Linked DNA regions of Homo sapiens. The protein of the gene in region 1 interacts with the protein of each later gene in a pairwise test. Each region holds a gene or a part of one and is shown on either strand. Other genes may lie near its edges.

Region 1 (3,600 bases):
TGAGCCACCTCGCCTGGTGTTTCCAGTGTGCTGCCTTCTAACCTCACAGTTTCTCTTTGGTCTTCTGACTTTCTCCTCCTCTCCCTCTGTCTCCGCCTCCTTTTTGTTCTATCCCTAGGTCTCTGCTCTATTTTTCTAGGCCTGCTTTTCTCCCTCCGGGCATTTTGTTGTAATGAGTCTGTGCCTCTGCTGTGTCTCTGCATCTGTCAGCCTCTGTTTCCGTATTTATATCTGTCTCTATCTCTGTCTTTGTGTTTCTCTCTCTCCTTCCCTGTCTTCTCTGCCTCTTCCTTCTGGCTTCTCCCCTGTAGGTTAGATGACAGAAGCCAAGATCCTCCCCAAAGCTAGGATGGCACCCCAGGGTCCCCCATGAGTCCTGGGAGGCCTCTTTCTCAAGGCTCCCAAGGCTCCTCAGAGGAGAGGCTTGGGGAATGCCGTGGTGGAGGCTCCACCTGGCCTCAGCCTCCTCCCCAGCAGTGTGTGTCGGGTGCGGGGAGGCACACAGCAGCCCCATGACCTTCTATCTCTCTCCAGGTTTCCGACTGGTGGATGAGGCTGCCTGGAGCGTGAGTTTCCTCTTCTGGGAGAGTCTGATAGGAGATGTTGAGGGGGGACAGAGGGTGGAGGAACAGATGCCAACTCTCAGCTTCATCCTCCAGTGGAGAGAGAGGAAGGCAGAGAAGTGAGTCTGGCCAACCCAGCTCCTAGAGATGGCAGCCCCACCTGCAGTGGGGAACATGGTGGGTGGGCCTTCGGAGGCCTCAAGAGTGGGAGAGGCCACACAGCAGGGAGGAGACACAGGAGATAGGAGGGCTGCGCCCACACCCTGGCTTATGACTGGCTCACAAGCACACACAACAGGCCCTATACCATGAGCTGGTTTTGAGTGGGGTTCAGAGATGAGCTCCCCCGTCTCCAACCGTCCCCCTAGCACAAGGCCAGCTTAGGCCAGGGTTGAGAGCTGACACCCGGCCCAATCCTGCCCGAGCTGAGCCCTGGCTGAGCCTGGGAACCTCAGGCCAGCACAAGCTGTTCCTGTCCCCGGGGACTAGGGTCACAGCCCAGCCCCAGGAGAGGCCACTCATAACAGGCCAGAACAGGGGAGTGGAGAGCAGCTACTGGAGGCTGGAGACGGGGGTGGGGGTGAAGGGTTGCCTTGCTGGGGCCTGGGCTCCTGGACCCCCCACACACCCACCTGGCCCTTAGCACAACTTCAGATCATCAGCCTGCCAAGTTTTCTGAGGATCCAGTTGCCCGGGACCTCAAGCTGAACCCCCAGTCCTCATAACTGGCAAAGATGTGAGAGCCAGGGACCTGCAAACCTGGGTCCTTCCCCTACATCCTCCCTCAAACATTCCTGCCGCTGGACAGAGAGATGACACTGATAATCTGTTTATCTAGCGTCATTCAAAGCAGGAGACACGTTTTTGCTCACTTAAGCCTCACAACCCATGAGGTAGGCCCTATATTATTCTCCTTTAGAAATGAGAAACTGAGGCACAGAGGTCAGGCCTCTTGACCAAGACCCCACAGACAGTAAGCTGCAGAGTGGAGGGTGGCACTTAGGCAGTCTTGGCTCCAGTGTCGATGCTCTTGTGGCTACACTTCCCTTGCAAGCCAAGGACAGCACCCAGTCTTCTCTTCCCAGCCCTGGGAGGGGGCAGTGAGCCAGGCTGCCCCTGACTCACAAAGTCCGGGGACCAGGGGCTTAGGGAACAACCTCGCTAGCATTTCATCTCATTTACATGTTCATTACGGAAGGGAACCCCCAACCCATCCTCTCTGGCCCCCTCCACTGTCCCCTTCCCCTCCTTCACGTCTCTCTCCATCAGTCCCTCTTTTCTACACTCCTGGGTCTGGGGCCTCAGACTCCAGTCGAGGAGGGGGACCTCAGGGACCGCAAGCCCTTTCCCCGGGGCAGGGTGGTCTCCGGGGCCGCACCACCGGGCCTCCCCTGCCAGGGGGCGCGCAGTCACTCACCTGCCTTGGGGCCCCGTCTCCCCTGCGGCCTGGGGTAGGAACCGCCGGGGTCTGCGAGGAGGAGGACTGGACAGCCGAGGACGGGGCGAGGGTCCCCACTTCGAGCCCCAGCCTGACTGCGGGAGCGGCGGGGAGGCGGGACGCTGCTGATCGCAGGGCCGGGAGGGGCGCCGAGGGGCGGGGGGCAGGAAGGGGGTGGGAACTCGGGCCCTCGCCAAGGCAGGAAGTTTTGACAAGGAAACAGGAGCCGGGGGAGGGGAGATCCAGGCGCCCGGGAGGGAAAACTGTATTCTGGGTGGGATCACAGAGGCCGACTCTGCGCGGCCTGGGCCAGGAGCAGAGGGGGATAAGAAGGGGATGAGGAGGGGAGGTCAGCGCAGGGGCCCAGGGCCCCAGTCCCTCCCTAGCTTCCCCTCGTTGTGCGGCCTGGGTTACTTACCCTCTCGTGCCTCAGCTTTCCTATCTGCAAAGTGGGGTTGTGGGAAGGAATCAATGAGATCGCCTACGTCGGGCACTGTCCAGTGCTGCCCAGCAACCGTGATCTTATTAAGACCCCTCCCGGGCACCGCATCCCACTAGTCTCGGAGAGGCTGACAGGGCGAGGCCCCCCTCTCCTCCTGCCGCCCCTAATCGCACTGCGGAAGGCCGGGCGCGGTGGCTCATGCCTATAATCCCAGCACTTTGGAAGGCCGAGGCCGGCCGATCGTGGAGCCCAGAGTTTGGAGACCAGCCTGGCCAACATGGCGAAATCCTGTCTCTACTAAAAATACAAAAATTAGGGCCGGGCGCCGTGGCTCAGGCCTGTAATCCCAGCACTTTGGGAGGCCAAGGAGGGCGGATCATTTGAGGTCAGGAGTTAGAGACCAGCCTGGCCAACACGGTGAAACTCCGTCTCTACGAAGAGTACAAAAAAAATTGCCGGGCGTGGTGGTGGGCGCCTGTAATCCCAGCTACTGGGGGAGGCTGAGGCAGGAGAATCGCTTGAACCCAGGAGACGAAGGTGGCAGTGAGCCGAGATCGTGCCACTGCACTCCAGCTTGGGCGACAGAGCACAGCTCCGTCAAAAAAAAAAAAAAAAAAAAAACGCGCCAGGTGTAGTGGCGCGCACCTGTGGTCTCGGTTTACTGGGGAGGCTGAAGAGGAAGGATCGCTTGAGCCTAGGAGGTCGAGACTGCAGTGAGCCAAGATCCTGCCACTCCACTCCAGCCTGGGCGACAGAGCGAGACCCTATCTTAAAAAAAAGAAAGAAAAAAAAAAGAAAAGAAAAAAGTCACACCGCGGGAGGGTGTGACCCTGGGAAGCATTCTCCGCCTCTGCCCGCCCCGCCTCCGGCCCACACCCACCAGCGCGTAAGCAACTCCTGAGCCCACCGAGTCCGGTGCGAGCGCCACCTCGCGGCTAGCATCCGCTTCCCAGAGCCCCACAGCCGGGGGACCAGACCTGGGAGCCCTTCCCCGCCTGATAGCAATGAACATTAGCTTTCCCCGCCTGATAGCAATGAACATTAGCTTTCGCCGTGGTCAGCCCTTCAGGCGTATTGCCTCATTGAATCCTTCACTCGAGATTGGTTTCATCATTATGTCCTTTTACATATGGCGAAACCGACGTCCTGAGCGGCTT
Region 2 (3,419 bases), on another chromosome or scaffold:
ATTTATAAAGTATATATCTCATAAGGGGTTAACATCCAAAATACAAAAGGAGCTCAAACAGCTCACAAGCAAGAAAACAAAAACCTGATTAAAAATGGGCAAAAGACCTGACTAGACATTTCTCAAAAGAAGACATACAAATGGCTAACAGGTTTGTGAAAAAGTACTCAACATTACTAATCATTAGGGAAATACAAATCGAAACCACATTGAGATATCACCTTATTCCTGTTAGAATGGTTATCATCAAAAAGACAAAAGATGACAAGTATTGGCAAGGATGTGAAAAAAACTCCCTCGTACACTGTTGGTGGGAATATAAATTAGTTCAGCCATTATGGAAAACAATATAAGGGTTCCTCAAAAAATTAAAACTGGAATTACCGTATTATCCAGCAATCCACTTCTGGGTACCTTATATATCTACAGGAAATGAACTTAGTATGTTGAAGAAATAACTGCATGTCCAGATTTATTGCAGCACTATTCACAATTGCCAAGATATGCACACAGTGCAAGTGTCCACCAATGAGTAAGGGGATAAAGAAAATGCAGTATATACTCAGTGCAATACTATTTGGCCGTAAAAAGACGGAAGTTCTGTCATTTGTGACAACATGGATACATCTCAAGGAAATTATGCTAAGTGAAGTAAATCAGTCATAGAAAGACAGATAGCACATGATCTCACTCACATGATCGCACTCAAAAAAGTTGATATCATAGAAGTAGAGCAGAGAATGAAGATAATCAGAGGCTAGGGGTGGCTAGGGAGTCAGGGGCTTGAGGAGATACTGGTCAAAAGACATATAATTGTAGCTAGACAGGAAGAATCAGTTCAAGAGGTCTACTGTATAGCATAGTGACTATAGTTAATGATGATATATTGTACATACTGTATTCTTGAAAAATTCTAAGAATGGATATTAAGCGTTCTCACCACAAAAAAATGATAGGTATGAGAGGTAATGCATTTATTAGCTAGATTTAATCCTTCCACAATGTATATATACTTCAAAATATTATGTTGTATGTGGTAAATACAATATTATACGTCAATCTGAAAAATAACTAATTGTTTTTAATTTCACTGAGCTTGAGTTCTTTCTATATTAAGCACATCATGCAAGACACAGTAGTGGGGGTAGATAGATTCTTAAAAGTATTATACAGGTGTTACACAGTGTTAGGGAGCCTGGGTGAAGTACAGACAGCCTCTCCTGGGACTGTTTGTTACAGCTGTATGTAAATCTACAATTATCTCAAATTTCTTTTTTAAAAAGTGAAAACACACACCTGCATTATGTTAACAGACAGTTAGAGGCATTTAAAAAAAACAATGAGTTATGGAATAAAAATGGGACTATGTCTTCCGGAATCTAATAGATTAACTGGAGAGACATGACACAAAATATAGGAGAGCAAAGTATCAATTTAAGAAACTGACCCATTAGTAACACCAAGTATAAAAATTTAAGGATATGGAATATGACCCAAAATTTGAAACATTCAGGGAAACCCATTTCAATAGTGTAGAGGTCACCAAGGCCACATGCAGGTATTGCTATCCCTTTGCTTATTGCTTAATAATGACCCACAGACTAGGAATGCCACACTGAGCAGATGGGTTTTCCTCGCTATTGGTCACTAGAGGGAATGCATAACTGGAAGTGTGACTGACCAAATCCCATTTTGGTAGAGGGTACCTGAAGCGAGAGTAAGAAATGCAATTCCAAATGCAGGGAATCACATGAACAGCCCTCTGTGGAGGAAGAGGAAGAGAACGTGGTCTAGAAGATGCTACCGAGGTGTGAATCATGAGAGAAGGCAGACATGATAGATCTTATTACATCCGGACAAGAAAATTTTGTTTTCAACAAGTTTAAACCATTAAATGGGCAAACATTATTGTGTAATCTGATAATCACTTAGTTATTAAGTAAACAAAAACAAGGAAAATGTAGTACCAACAAGACAGCTGGGCAGTATATAAGAGGCTGTGGCCCAAGGACACTTCCAAACTTGAGAACCTCATTCTTCTAGAAATCCACCCAGAACCTCCACCCTCTGACACCATGGTCAGCTCCTGTTGTGGCTCTGTCAGCTCTGAGCAGAGCTGTGGCCTGGAGAACTGCTGCCGCCCCAGCTGCTGCCAGACCACCTGCTGCAGGACCACCTGCTGCCGCCCCAGCTGCTGCAAGCCCCAGTGCTGCCAGTCTGTGTGCTACCAGCCCACCTGCTGCCACCCTAGCTGCTGCATCTCCAGCTGCTGCCGCCCCTATTGCTGTGAATCCAGCTGCTGCCGCCCCTGCTGCTGCCAGACCACCTGCTGCAGGACCACCTGCTGCAGGACCACCTGCTGCTGCCCCAGCTGCTGTGTGTCCAGCTGCTGCAGACCCCAGTGCTGCCAGTCTGTGTGCTGCCAGCCCACTTGCTGCCGTCCCAGCTGCTGCATCTCCAGCTGCTGCCACCCCTCTTGCTGTGAATCCAGCTGCTGCCGCCCCTGCTGCTGCGTGCGTCCAGTCTGTGGCCGAGTCTCCTGCCACACCACTTGCTATCGCCCAACCTGTGTCATCTCCACCTGCCCCCGCCCCTTGTGCTGTGCCTCCTCTTGCTGCTAATGTCTCCTTGTGATATTTGTCATACTATGAATGTCTTCATTAGTCATTTAAAATGCACTGTAGCCAGCCAGTCACTGGAAAAATGAACACTTCCCTGCCAGTTTGTCTCATGTGGCATTCAGAGTGGACATTCAGCTCTTCTAGGAAATGACAGACAATCACATTCATTAAAATATGTTATGCCAGGCCCCAATGCAGTTATTTTTAGATGAGCAGTGTCTTCATTCGAAGGGGACACTAACTGTGATGATCTCATATAATATTGTTTTCATGTATTAATAAACAGCCACTTCCCTAATATTGAAATCTTCTGATTTGTTAGTGATCTCATTGTGCGTGTGTGTGTGTGTGTGTGTGTGTCTTTACCTGTCAGTTCACATCAAGGGCCATCTCTCTTCAAATGCAGGAGAGCATGTTTAAGAGCCTGGGCTCTTGATTCATGTTCCCTGCATTGGAATCACGACTCCCCTAGGTATTTGTTGCGTGGCATGGGGCAAGTTTTTTAACCTCCTCAGGCCTCAGTTTTCTTTCTCTGTGAATAGAGATAATGCATTACATTCTTTAAATGTTAAGAGACATAACCCATGTAATATACTCACCACAGGGCCTGGTACATAATGCAGTATAGGCTCTTAATGGATACAGTTTCTGGCCGAGCGTGGTGGCTCACATTTGCAATCCCAGCACTTTGGGAGGCTGAGTGGGTGGAACACTTGAGGCCAGGAATTCGAGACCAGTGTGGGCAACATAGTGAAATCCCTTCTCTACTGAAAGTACAAAAATTAGTTGGGCGTGTTG

Evidence for each region.
Region 2: the proteins of PEAR1 (region 1) and KRTAP4-5 interact in binary tests that used the Homo sapiens proteins (3 or more experiments, as listed by UniProt).

Annotation. Positions count from the first base shown.
Region 1 is NC_000001.11:156,892,218-156,895,817, reverse strand, and holds the start of PEAR1 (platelet endothelial aggregation receptor 1 isoform 1 precursor), read right to left. Parts: upstream 2,101-3,600; 5' UTR 1,981-2,100; intron 1-1,980.
Region 2 is NC_000017.11:41,148,424-41,151,842, reverse strand, and holds KRTAP4-5 (keratin-associated protein 4-5), read left to right. Parts: upstream 1-2,017; 5' UTR 2,018-2,075; coding exon 2,076-2,621; 3' UTR 2,622-2,919; downstream 2,920-3,419. UniProt on the Homo sapiens protein: In the hair cortex, hair keratin intermediate filaments are embedded in an interfilamentous matrix, consisting of hair keratin-associated proteins (KRTAP), which are essential for the formation of a rigid and resistant hair shaft through their extensive disulfide bond cross-linking with abundant cysteine residues of hair keratins.